Homo sapiens: one gene and its partner. The protein of the gene in region 2 purifies or fractionates together with the protein of the main gene of each other region. This does not show direct contact. Each region holds a gene or a part of one and is shown on either strand. Other genes may lie near its edges.

Region 1 (7,026 bases), on a different chromosome or scaffold from region 2:
TTAAAATACCAAAATTTTTCTTCTGTATGTCAAATTTATATGATGAAAATTAGCTTTATTGGATTTCAGGGACTTTTCATTCCTATGGTTCATTTTACCTTTCTAAAATACTATATTTCAGTTTCATTTTCTTGGTTGTTTTACTTAATTGTACTGAGCCTCCTTCTCTTTATAAATGGTTCGCCCACACATGTACACACACTGTAACTGGAAAAACCACCACTAATCCTACAGTTTCTTGTGTTCTTCCAGCTTTCTTATTCTTCACAGAAATTTTTTAACTACACAGTGCTTCACTTCCTTATCAACTCGTCTTAATCCCTTTCCAATTCAACTTTACTCTGCCATACCACCCAATCATTATAGTATCAAGTCTCCAATGACCACTTCCTCACTGAACCCAAAGATTGCAATTTTCATGCTTCTCTGGTGCATCAGACACTAGTGATCAAGCATCCCATGTCACTAAAGCCAAAGACAAAAACATTTCATTGTGTTTCCAGTTACAACTCTTACACTATTCTTTATCAAATACACAAACTCATCAAATCCTAGGCTTCAATTTTACTTGGATAGCTTCCAATCTCCAGCCTACTCTCTCAACCTCTTCATATGTCTGTTACATGAAGGCATCTCCAGTTGTGCTACACAAGCATGGAAACTTATTGTACTAAAACCAGTACTCATCTCCTTTCCCAACCAGAAAATCTGGTCCCACATTACCTCCCTGTACATAATACACATTAAACGTTGAACAATACTTAGTCCAGGAGAAAAATAAACAGGTTTATGATACTCATATCAATTTATAAGCTTTTGGAGGAAATAGATGGTATTTTCACAATATACACAAAATGTGTTTGTGCCTTTTTATTAAATTTTACCCTTTGTTTTACTAAAAACAATATAACATTTTTTAAAAAGTGTAAGCAATCTTGGCCAGGTGTGGTAGCTAACGCCTGTAATCCCAGCACTTTGGGAGACCAAGGCGGGTGGATCGCCTGAAGTCAGGAGTTCGAGACCTGCCTGACCAATATGGTGAAACCCCGTCTCTACCAAAAATACAAAAAAATTAGCCAGGTGTGGTGGCGGGCACCTGTAGTCCCAGCTACTTGGGAGGCTAAGCCAGGAGAATTGCTTGAACCCAGGAGGCAGAGGTTGCAGTGAGCCAAGATGGCGCCACTGCACTCCAGCCTGCGCAACAGAGCAGGATTCTTGTCTCAAAAAAAAAAAAAAAAAAAAAAAGAGTGTAAGCAATCTTTAATTGGAGGCCATTTGGCTAAGATGGTCCTAGGACTCTGGGTTCCTATGTAAGCAAACTGAAGCCCAATGTAAACAGTGAAACAAAACTTAATCTTTGCTTTTTATTTTTTAATTATAAACTGACTATAGTTATATATTTATGAGGTACAAAGTGATGATTTATGAATACAATGTGGAATAATTAAATCTAGTTAACATATCCATGACCTCAAATTTTTTTTGTAGTGAAAACTTTTAAAAGTTACTCTTAGCAAGTATAAAGTACATTATTAGTCACTATATTCACCATACTGTGCAACATATCTCAAAGAAAAAAATTCCTCCCCTTTGACTATCATCTCCCCATTCCCCCATGCCTTCCCTCCAACCCTGGTAACCACTGTTCTACTCTCTGCTTCTTTTAGTTCAACGGTTTTAGATTAAATATATAAGTAAGCACATATGTTGTTTGTCTGCTTGTACTTGGCTTATCTCATTTAGCTTAATGTTCTCCAATCCATCCATGTCGTCACAAATGACAAAGTTTCTTTCATTTTTAAGGCTGAATAGTATTCCACTACGTATGTACACCAGATTTTTCTTTATCCATTCATCTGTCTAAGGACCCTTAGGTTGATTCCGTATCTTGGCTATTGTGATTAATGCTGCAATGAACATGGGAGTGCAGATATCTCTTCAACATACTGATTTCCAATCTTTTAGGTAAATACCCAGAAGTTGGATTGCTGGATCATATGGTAATTCTATTTTTAGTTTTTTGAGGAACTGCCACTGTTTTCCATAACGGTTGTACTAATTTACATTGCCATTAACAGTGTACAGAGGTTCCCCTTTCTCCACATGCCTTGCCAACACTTATCTTTCATCTGTTTGATAGTAGCCATTCTGACACATATTGGGGTGATATCTCATAGTGGTTTTAATTTGCATTTCCCTGATGATTAGTAATGTTGAACATTTTTTCATGTATCTGTTGGCCATTTGTATGTCTTCTTTTGAGAAATGTCTATACAGGTTCCTTGCCCATTTTTTAACTGGATTATTTGTATTCTTTCTATAGAGTTATTTGAGTTCCTTTTATATTCTGAATTTTAATCCCTTATCTCATGTATGGCTTGCAAATATTTCCTCCCAATCCATAGGATGTCACAACTTAATTTTAATCAGAAACCAACAACTATTCTCTAACAAGCAACTTTCTGCCAGATTGTACCCAAATAAGACAAACAAGTAGCTATGACAATCAAGTAATTTTTTTTTTTTCAAGACAGGGTCTCGCTCTGTTGCCCAGGCTGGAGTGCAGTGGCACAATCACAACTCACTGCAGCCTCAACCTCCCAGGCTCAAGCAATCCTCCCACCTCAGCCTCCCAAGTAGCTGGGACTACTGGCATGTGCCACCATGCCTGGCTAATTTTTGCATTTTTTGTAGAGATGGAGTTTCACCATGTTGCCCAGGCTGGTCTTGAACTCCTGAGCTCAAGTGATCCACCTACCTCAGCCTCCCAAAATGATGGGATTACAGGTATGAGCCACTATGCCCAGTCCAATCAAGTAATTTCTTTACTTCGCTTCCACATTCAGCCTGCAAAGGTCTGCCGCTTACTCTGTTAAAACAAGAGCTCCCTGAACTACTTCTAATTTTGGGTGCTGCCAAATTCATTAATCCTTTAACACAAAAACAAATTCTGATAAATTGATTTCGTCTAAAGTTTTTCTTTTAACAAAGTCAAAATGAAGTTACCAAGGAAGCCCTGAAGGCTTTTTGTGATAAGGCTTAAAAGATTACATGATAGTAAAAGGTTACATGCTGAAAGATTCTCAACTAAAGAGCCTTATCATACATCAAGAGCCAGAGTTTCTTACATATTCTTCTTGTTTCCAATCTCTTTTCCTCTTTCCAATACACGCTCTACTGTGCACTCAGAATTACTTACCTAAAATATGAAACTGAGGTCAGTAATCAAAATGTCTTCCTGCTGCATATAAAATAAATTCAAATCCTTTAATCTGGCATTCAACTACTTACCATCTGGTCAATCTGGTATCAGTGTATTTGTCAAATTTCACTTCCCACTGACGTACTCCCCTGCCCCTCATGCTCCAATCACACCACCCTCCTCATTCTTTAAGACCTAGCTCAAATGAGCGAACTAATGTTATGTGGCAAGCAATGACTATGCACTGAGACCACCAAAATAAATAAGATAGTCCCCGGCTATCAAGAATCATATTTGGTGGAGAAACACACAAGCAAACAAATCTATGTTATTTAATATAAAAGATGTGATATAAAATACAAGCAGAGGGGTGGGTATGGTGCTCGTGCCTGTAATCTCAGCAATTTGGGAGGCCAAAGCAAGGGGATCACTTGAAGTCAGTAGTTTGAGACCAGCCTGGGCAATATAGTGAGACCATGTCTCTACAAAAATGTAAAAATTAGCTGGGCATAGTGGCACATGTCTGCAGTCCTAGCCACTCTGGAGGATAAAGCAGAAGGATCTCTTGAGCCCAGAAGTTCAAGGCTGCAGTGAGCTATCATAAGGCCCCTACACTTCAGCCTGAACAACACAGCAATACTCTGTCTCTAAAACTAATAACAAATAAATAAAATACAACCAGAATACAGAAAGGCAAATTACCAATTCAAAGTAGCAGAATCAGAGAAAGCTTCATAGAAAAAACAAAAAGGTGTTCATGTGTCAGAGAATAATGGTTAACACTTATGTAGCACTAACTATATGCTAGATTCTATTCCAAGTGCTTTATGTATATTAACTCATTTAATCCTTATTTTCTACGATGATGAAAATTGCTTAAGTAAAACAAATGTAGTATCATTTATTGAACATTTACAACATGCCAGGAACTGTGCTAAGCACTGAACAGGAACAAAATGAAATTAAGGCCTACAATTTTAAAAAGAACAAAAAAGGAAGCCGGGCAAGTGGCTCACACCTGTAATCCCAGCACTTTGGGAGGCTTGAGGGGGCAAATCACTTGAGCCCAGGAGTTCAAGACCAGCCTGGGCAACATGGCAAAACCCTATCTCTTACAAAAAATACAAAAAAAATTAGCCAGGCGTGGTGGTGCACACCTGTAGTTCCAGCTACTGAGAAGGCTGAGGTGGGAGGATCACTTTAGCCCAGGAGGTTGAGGCTACAATGAGCCAAAACCATGCCATTGCACTCTAGTCTAGGCAACAAAGTGAGACTCTGTCTCCAAAAAAAAAAAAAAAAGTGAGAGATGGTAGTTATCTCATTTTGTACCTCCATTGGTAGGGCTTAACCCCTTTGAGATTCTTTCCATTTTTTTTTTCTTTTGAGACAGAGTTTCACTCTTGTTGCCCAGTCTGGAGTACAATGGCGCCATCTTGGCTCACCACAATGTCTGCCTCCCAGGTTCAAGTGATTCTCCTGCTTCAGCCTCCAGAGTAGCTGAGATTACAGGCATGAGCCACCACGCCTGTCTAATTTTCTATTTTCAGGAGAGACAGGGTTTCTCCAGGTTGGTCAGGCTGGTCTTGAATTCCCAACCTCAGGTGATCCGCCTGCCTCAGCCTCCCAAAGTGCTGGGATTACAGGCGTGAGCCACCACGCCCGGCGGAGATTCTTTTTTAATTAGGACAAAATAAAATAGGACTTTTTAAAACAGGATTTAAAAGATTCACCTAATTACTTATCTCCTACAGCCATAATTTTCTTTTTAAACAACAGTATGCCTTGCCCAATTTTTTCAACAGCATTGATTTATTCAACAAGTACTGGCTGGGTGCCATGGCTCACATCTGTAATCCCAACACTCTGGGAAACCAAGAATTCAAAAAATAAAAAAATTAGCTAGGCAGGCTGGTGCACACCTGTAGTCCCAGCTACTCAGGAGGCTGAGGTGATGGGAGGATCGCTTGAGCCCCAGAGGTTGGGATGGCAGTGAGCAGTGATCATGCAACTGCACTCTAGCCCGGGTGACAAAGCGAGACCCTGTCTCAAAAACAAACAAACAAACAAAAAAACAATGGATTACTCACTCTATGCAAGGCAAACTAAGCACATACATTTTCCTCCGCTTCCTAACAAAATCGCACTGAAATGCACTCATTCATTCTGGAAGAGAAAGCAGGTAGGATTATGCTGAGGATTAAGCCAGTGCAGAGAAAACTGCAGTCCAGAACACACACACATGCATACATGAGAAGGCTATAGCAATGTAGAAGACATTCTTGCCAGCAGAGCCTGGAGAGGTACCAATCTTAGAAACAAGCAGAGGAAGGACGTAGGACTAAAATCAGAATTATTATAATATTTATATGAAACAGCAAGCCAAACTTTTTACCACAGCCCTTTACACACAAAACGCCTGGCAGCAACAGTATTTGTTTCTGGCTAAAACCACATCTATTTTGTTGTTATTGCTCTTTTTAATTTAACAGTCTACCCTGGAAGCCTTTGAGCATCTTCATGTTCCATAACAAAGCATTCCTTATTTGGGTACAGGGTGGAAGGAGAGGAGGAAAGAGGCAACTCGTTTCTTGCACTTCACTCAAGGACCCTAAAGTTAGACCCAACAGCTAGTACCCTGCTCACTTACAAAAGAGCTCAATAATTTTTTTTTTTTTAGATGAAGTTTCACTTTTGTCATCCAGGCTGGAGTGCAATGGCGCAATCTCGGCTCACTGCAACCTCCGCCTCCCAGGTTTAAGTGATTCTCCTGCCCCAGCCTCTTGAGTAGCTGGGATTACAGAAGCCTGCCAAGACTTCCGGCTAATTTTTTTATTTTCGGAGAGACAGGGTTTCACCATGTTGGCCAGGCTGGTCTTGACCTTCCAGACCTCAGGTGATCTCTCAAAGTGCTGGAATTACCGGTGTGAGCCACTATGCCCCGCCAAGAATTTTTTTTTTTGAAGTAAAAGCACAACAGACAGAAAGGATGAAAATAAACAACTGACCTGAAAGAAGCAGAGCTATTTCCGGGAATGGGACATAAATATTTAAAAGTTATAAGTGTTATCCTCAAAGAAATTCATGTCATGAGAACAATGCATCCATTAAAAATAACTAGATGACTAGAAACTGTGGGGAAAAAACCACTGAAAAAAGAAAGTGAAAAGAACTGAAAATCAAGGAAATGGACCTCTTGGATTGATCCTTCGTATTATGTATTTTTTCTTTTTATATTTTTCCTCTGTATTTGGAAGAATCTATCTAAATGTATTTGGAAGAACCTATCTAAATTCTGAATAGAACAGAGAAAATGTCAAGAACATAATTAAAGAAATAATTGAAGAAAATTTCCCAGAAGTGAAAAATAGGATTCATAGAGTGCCAAGAAGGATGAATGAAAAAAGATTCACCACCTAGAAACACTGATAAAATATCACAGAACCAATGATAAAGAAAACAGTCTAATAAAATCTTCCAGAGAAAAAAGTATGATACCTGCAAAAGAAAGAGACTGGCATTAGACTTGTCATCAGATACACTAGACACAAAAAGCAAGAGAATGTCTTCAGAGTTTTGAAGAAAACAAAATGATTGTGGACTAAGTCTATTCCCAAGCTATCATTAAATGAGCAGGCAAGGTAAAGGCATTTTCAGACATATGAAGTCTGTGGAAATTAAATTACCTGTTTAATCCTTCCTGAAAAAAATTGCTTGAAATTAGTTATACCCCTACAAGGTGGGAAAAAAATCTATGACAAATGAGGACATGGAATACATAAAGCAGTAGACCTAACCCAGGCATGATACAAAAAAATCTCAGTAAA
Region 2 (7,747 bases):
TTAATCAACTTTATTTCATGTTTACCCACCAACAAAGGAAATCACAGGAAAAACTATGATCTTTGCATTTGCTGTTATACTTTATTGGACACAGAAATAGCAATATTGTTTATTCCTTTTTAAAATATACTCTGACAGTTAAAGATACTGAGAACACATACTTAAATTACTGTGACATTATATTATCATATTATAAATATATATTCATTATAATGTATTCTCAAGTCTTACTCATTTTTGAGGATTAATCTGAATATTACCTCAACATGTTCAGACTGATGATGGTGATTTATACATCATCCAACATACTAAAAACTTAGATATTCTAGTGAAAAAGAAAGAAAATTGTTTGATAAATAAGACTCTTACAAATTATGCTTGTTTAAATGCAGAAACACATTATTTAAAAGAAAATTAATCAAATAATTGTGTGCACTTGAATAGTTGTATGCATCTTAGGCAATGGTCAATTTATTTTTAAAATAATTTTATTTCAACACAAATTATTTAATCTTTATTAAAAATAAAGGAAAAAAACCTAAATATAAACTAACTAGTAATTCCACCTTCTTATGTTTAAAGCAATGATTAATTTGTCAACCAGATGCAACGCATTGAAACTCTATGCTTCCCCAAAACATGGAAATATATTAATAAGGACTAATATACAATGAAGAAATTATCAAAGTATAAATTAATTCAACTTCTAAATGTGATAATAATTGTTCCAAGTGCATTAGTTTGATTTCATGGGATACATTTTCTTTTATCATTTCTCTGTTGGAACCATAAAGGTAGAAGTGTCAAGGTCAATTTTTACGTTTTTCATTTTGAAAGCATCCTTTTAAATCTTTATAAAGAAATCAGTATAAAATAAATATAAATAGCAGATGCGTAAGTGTAGATTGGGATAAATAAATCGTATAAACCCCAAATAAAATAATGCAGAAAGAACATAAGTGGGTTTATTGAAGGAGTATTAGAATATAACTATTTGTATGCAGAAGTGGTCTGAGAAATCAGTTGAAAAGACAGAGGCATTAAAACTAGATTTAGGCAATTCAGTAGAATATCAAACTTAGTTGAAACAAAGTAGTTGAAGAAATAATATTTCATAAATGTGTTCTGACATTTTCTAATGAAGAAACGAGCAAGCATAAAAGAAAGAAACCTTACTATTAATCATGTATTTGAGTTGGCTTTTCTTTATAAATTATTAAATTTCCTTGAGTACTTCAAATGCTCTTTTTAAGGAATTATTATTTTTTGCATCATTTGTTTTATATTTTTCCATAATTTTTTAAATTAATATTTTGTTAGAATTGTTTTCAGTTTACAAAAAACATGGATCAGAAAGTACAGAGTTACTATATACTCCCCCTACACACACACAATTTTTCTTATTAACATCTTATATAGTATATTTGTTAACATGAATGAACCAATATTGATAAATGATTTTTAACTAAAGTCCATAGTTTACGTTAGTGTTGTGTAGTTCTATGATTTTTGCCAAATGGATAATGTCATGTATCCACCATTAGAGTATCATACAGAATATTTCTCTACTCTAAAGATTTCCTGTGCTTCACCTACTCATCTCTTCCTCTCCTCTACCCCTGTAACCACTGATCTTTTTATGGTTTGTATAGTTTTGCCTTTTCCAAAATGTCATATAGTTGAAATCACACAGGATGTAGCCTTATCAGACTGGCTTATTTCACTTAGTGATATACATTTAAAGTTCTTCCATGAATTTTCATGGCTCCTTTCTTTTCATTGCTGAATAATCTTCCATATTCTGGATATACCACAGTTTGTCTCTCCATTCACTTATGAAGGAATATCTTGGTTGGTTCAATTTTTGTGAATCACTTTTAAAATACGAGACTATACTTGCATAGCCAAATCATGTATTGCCCCAGGAATTACCACAGGATAGAACTCTTTGATAATCTGAAGTAATCTTTCTTTTGTTTTTATTCTACTTATCTCTTTTCTCTTGCATGAAATTCAAAGGTAAAAAAATTTCTGTTAAGTAGCATCTCACTTTAAGCAACCTTAAAATAGTGCTTCTTAAATGATGCTCCAAGTAGCATCTACATTAGAATCATCAGAGTTGCTTGTTAAAGTTCAGATTCCTGGGCTCTACTCTTGATGTACTGAATCAGAATTTCTGGGGATGGAGCCCAGGTTTCTATTTTTTTAAACAAAGCTCCTCATGTTGCCTACCCTCACTAAACTTTGAAAGCAGACTACTTTTGTAATCAAGTTGTGTTTTTGATAATGTATGATATAACATGCTTTCTCCACTTTTGGACGTCTCAGGACTGGGGAAAGTAGGATTCAACTTAGAGTATGTGGCCAACTCTTTATTAGAAAGAAGTACTTTTTACAGAAATGTACTGAGTATTAGGGAAAATATTTTTTGATTCTATGTTGTTTCTTTCCAACATTCTTTGGAAAAGGAATGCAAGGATATTATCCTGGACCATTTACATTTCCAGCATTTCTTCATCAGGCTGAAGGTACCCAGAAAAAATTACTCTAGTACCTCAAACCATTACCTAGATCCACATTCTTAAGAAGGGCTTAGAGATAAATATTGTTTCTTTCAAACCAGGAAACTGTTATAGTTCAATAGTGGTTAATATTTTGGGTAATATTTTGAGTAATTTTCTGCATTTCTTATATTGCTATCGTTTCATTTTATTTCCAGCAAAATGTATTGCATTAGAATGTGGGAGAATTCAACTGAGTTGCTGATTGGATTTTCAAACTCATCGCAGAAATCACACCTTTGAAAGCCAAAGCTTTCATTTGTAAAACCTAGGCTTTTTAAGAGAATAAAAGTATTCTTGAAAATCAAAAGGAAAAATTCTAAAAAGCAGTACATCAGACTTGTGTCCCAAGCAGGAAATTAGAAACACAGTGGAAGATGATGTAAGAGCTAATTTTTCCTCCATATGTGGAAAACATACATGTACACACACACACACGGATGGAAGATCCGAGATATTAGAAATAAGAAAAGAGATCAAGAAAAATATATTTAGTTGTCCTCTAGAAGGCTCCCATCTTTGTCCTTCTGGATTCAGAGTATAGAAACCATGATTATTTTAAGAAACTCTGAGAGGAGAAAGAGCTGGTGCATTATTTCCTAAAGTGTAGCCCTGGGAGATTGCAAGTCTTTTAAAGAAAGCTATCCAGTATGGTCTTCAAGATAAGGAAGAAGAGATTAAGCAGGAAGGTCCCTGGACAAAACAAAGACTTTCCAAACTGAGAAAATGGGGGTCACAGAAGTGCTTAGAGAAAGCTGGTGGAACTGAAGATGTCTGGTTTTCAAACAAGGAGAATGTAGAGTGTATGGACCAAGGTAACCAGATGCCACTGCAGTATAGCAAGTATCAACAGCTGTGGTAGGCATGTACTGATAAGAAGGGAAAAGGAGAATATGTCCAGATGAGGACAAAAAGTGTCTATGAAGCCAGACACCTGATGCGCCAACTATATCTCATCAGTCTGGAAGCCTTACCTCTGAAACTTCTATTACTTTTGCTGAGCAAAAATATATGGTGAGTCCTAACTTTGTCTAATCATTTATTCAAAAAGAGAGTTGTTTGAACATTTAACTATAGAAAATATGAAATCTGTATCTGTTAAGTTAAAGCTATATCCTCTGGATGTGAATCTGAAGATTAAAATTTATACTTTCTAGGTATAAGAAGATTATCTGAAATAAATATATAGTGAAAAATTTAATGTTTTCTTTCTGGGTTTCCCATTTATTCTCCATCATAGACTGGGTTCTTTATATCAGTAGAAATAGGCATACAATATGCATACAAAGAGAAATGTCCTAATAAAGTAAATGGAAGGTGCATGAAAGAGAAATTCTGGAAGACAAATCAATAATATCTAGCTTGGATATTAGAGTCACATGGTCAGAACTGATTCCAGACTTCCAACTTACTAGTAACTTTGTGTTTTCTCATCCATAATTTGTGAATAATATCTACCTAGCAGCACTGTATGTATGAGATTAAATAATGAGATATATGTAAAGCATGTAAACTAGGGTCTGACACATAGCAAATGCTCAATTTTCTTATTCTTAATCTTACTGTTCTTGTCATTTATTATTTTACGAATTGCTATTTGTAGAACTTAATGTTTTACATTCTGATCTATGATTCTTATGGTCGGAATAATCCACAATAGTATAAATCTTGGTCTATGTTGAGAATTTCTTCATACAAACATAATTATGTAGCTCTTATACAGGCCAAACCTGCATTCATTTCTATTAGTTATATGCTAGAGGTAATGAATTTTTATTATTTATTTATGTATGTAGACACATTCTATTACCACTCTTTACCAACTGCCATTATTTTGGCTTAGGAGAAAATGATCTTGAAAACAGGTCTATGTAGTTTTAACAGCTCTTTTGTGAACTTCGGATGTAACTGAATCATTTTCTAGATTTATCTGTTAAATAAATGGTCCATGAAAGTATGTATGGGTAGATAATTGATGGAAGCAAATAATCCTATTGAAACATTTGCTATTTATTTTTGATACAGTTCTTTTAAACAGACTGATTAGTTCCCTTTATGATTTCACCCTCGAAAGCACACACGATTTTGTTCTTTATCATTGTTGCATGACATTCCATTTGGCAGTTGGGCTTATTTTTAGCCAGACTATCAAAGTATTTTTCAACTGGACTGTCACTGCACTTGAACTTGGAATCTTATAACTTGAAGAACTGCCCTGGAGAAAGGAAGAAACTTATAATAAATGGGAAATTATAAATCTAGACCAACCCAAACTTGTACTGGTAATTATTCTAATTATTCTTATTTCCTTAAGTGTAATATGGTTCAATTATAGTTACTGATAACTAACAACTCATTGGAATATGTGTTAATTTGTATACGGAAGATAAGGCAGCATGTTTTGTGAAAGTCTTTGAAAAACTATCTGAACTCAAATTATTTTTTTCTGAAGATCTTTATAGGAAACAAGAAATTTCTTACAAAAATATTATTTTAGTTCCTTGGTATAATGTTACAGAAAAAAATTTGGAATATTGCTGAATGTAGGGATTTTAGAATTATATCTTAAGTATCTAGTATTTAAAAACTAAAAACCGTCTTGCAACTAGAGATTGCTATAATTAAAATGCAATAAAATCAAATGAAATAAGTCAAATATATTTTTCTATGTAAATATATTATCCAATATCGAATGGGTTCTTCATTACTACAATTCAATATGATTGCATTTTAAATATAAACATCTGCATTTTAAACACACAATCAGTAATTTAAATTAAGTATTGTAGAATCTAGAATAAAAAACAGTTTTGATTACTTGTATGTTATGATCTGTGTCTACATTTTGCAAAACACAACTATGAATCAATCTCATTTGTTCTTCTTTACTAGATGAATGGAAGAAAAAAGTCAGTGAATCATATGTTATCACAATAGAAAGATTAGAAGATGACCTGCAGATCAAGGAAAAAGAACTGACAGAACTAAGGAATATATTTGGGTAAAGTTGTAAGAGTCATTATTTCTTTGTATAAGTGTCTTCAGTATTCACCTTATTTTTTAAAGTATCTGTATATTTTTTAAACCCGTAGAACCTCAGACATAAGCAGTCATGTTCTAAGCCTTAGGATGTCAGATTATCTCTCTTTGACCACTCATATAGCTCTCAAAATGCAAACATAACATCTCACCTCCTTAAAATATAAATTGTAATCTGCCATCATTAAAGTTTAAAAATAAAAACCTAAAGGCTAGCCTTTGAATGCAAGCTATTGTTGATCTCAGTAATCTTCTCAGGAATTAGATCATTCTTGTAAACCATGCCGGCAATGAAAAGCAAGATTTTTCTTCCCACATAGTGGTCGCATATTGGCCACATTGTTCTCTTTGAACTATGACGGTAAGTCCAATTTTAACAAACCCTCTGGTCTCTTGACATTGAAAGGCTGTCCCTTAATGGAACTGAGTATCATTCTGCCCCTGAACAATCATATAACAACATATAATATTGCCTTCAGGATTTCAGTAGATTTTGTTCCATGATAACAAGAGAAAAATAATCTAAGTGTCACAACCTTGGAAGACACAAAATGTTCAGAAAAGAGGAGCAAGACCCTTATATACACAAAAAGCCTTCTGGTTAAATTGAATCTGACATTGAGAAACTAGATGCCCATTAGAGGGTCAAGAAAGTTACCTGCCTGACTAAGGAAAAGTTCCATATAGGCCAATTAGCCATGTTCATTTATAGCTGTGTTATGTAATGCACTCATGGCAAAGAACTCCCTCTATTTTACTTAGAAAACAAGTGTAAAGCAATGACCAAATGACACATCTTTAAAATAAAATTTTAGATATAGTAAACATATAAATATCACATAATTGGCAAATAAAATCACCCATGTATAATATAGTTTATATGAAATTCGTCAATGGATGTAACAAGGCTTTCACAAGTGTTCAACTTATGGTTCAAAAAGTAGTTGGTTCTCTTTATAGTTTGGCCCAGGATGATGAACTCAACACTGACACTTGTGATGAGATACCACTGATCTGACTTTTGCAAGTAGTATCACATGTTGAGATATGGAACTACATTTGAAATTCCTGTAGAAATATGACTGGCATGTTAGTACAGTAGAATTATAAATATGTATTTGTTTTGTTGGAAAAGTATGAATATAGAAATTAATCATAAACATCTAGCTCTTATTGACTTAAATAAATATGCTAAATGAAATATGATTACATTGAAGAGATTTTCCTCAACTTTTAAAGGTCAAAGCCTCAGTTATTTAGTATTATTTTTTAATTTAGAAAGTATTGAGCACATAGGTGAAGGCTAGCTTAAACTAGATGTATCCAAACCTGAATATTAGGATTAACAATGGATTTAAAATGTAGGTTCTTTCTGATACCACATCGACAACTACAAGCTGTTTTGACAACTGCTATAATGGACTTTTCCTGTGTTTCTACTAAATGCAACAAATGTGACCTTCTTTTTTCTGATTAGCATTGGGGGTGAGATGCAGGAATCTGTGTCAGGGAGCTTACAGTCCAGAATTTGTTGAGTGCCAGCTCGTATTCAAGTGTTGTTCTGGATACATCAAATACAAGACATTATTTAATCTATAGTCATATGTAGATTGTTGTCATTTCATGTGTGCCGAATAATATTAACTCCGGTGGATGATAAACTAAGGATTAGAGACAAGGCAGTGGGAGTTGTCAAGTCACATGGTCAGTAAATTCTGGAATGTGATTTGTGTCAAGGTCTGCCTGACTCCATAGATAGCGCTCTTCCTACCATACCCTGCTTACAAAAACAAGATTTAGGTCCTGATTTATTCATTGATTTTTGGAATCATTGTAGATAAAAAGCATAGTTAAGTAAAGGTGTGTAGGCAAGAATGAATGAGTACCATAGAAAGTTTAGGAAAAGTGAGAAAAAATAATGTCTTCACCATATTATCTGACTTGAGTAAGAAAGCTATGTGAATCAATGTAAGAATTTTGGAGTCATACAAACATGGTTTTAAATACAGCTTCTTCTATTTATAAGCTGTATATCCATGGATATGTTTTTTAATCTCCTTAATCCTCATTTTCATCTATAAAATGAGGTGAATAATAATCACCTCACAGGATATTTTCAAAATGAGGTAAATTAAATACTAAGTACA

What was found. The genes of interacting proteins can lie anywhere in the genome.
Region 1: the proteins of TNNI3K (region 2) and ASB3 purify together in Homo sapiens (affinity purification with mass spectrometry, with the first as the bait; 2 studies listed by BioGRID). This does not show direct contact.

What each region holds. Positions count from the first base shown.
Region 1 is NC_000002.12:53,776,928-53,783,953, forward strand, and holds part of ASB3 (ankyrin repeat and SOCS box protein 3), read right to left. Parts: intron 1-7,026. UniProt on the Homo sapiens protein: Probable substrate-recognition component of a SCF-like ECS (Elongin-Cullin-SOCS-box protein) E3 ubiquitin-protein ligase complex which mediates the ubiquitination and subsequent proteasomal degradation of target proteins. Recognizes TNFRSF1B.
Region 2 is NC_000001.11:74,230,649-74,238,395, forward strand, and holds the start of TNNI3K (serine/threonine-protein kinase TNNI3K), read left to right. Parts: upstream 1-4,738; 5' UTR 4,739-4,803; coding exon 4,804-4,843; intron 4,844-5,453; coding exon 5,454-5,562; intron 5,563-7,747. Other genes in the region: FPGT-TNNI3K fusion protein, read left to right, coding at 5,454-5,562. UniProt on the Homo sapiens protein: May play a role in cardiac physiology.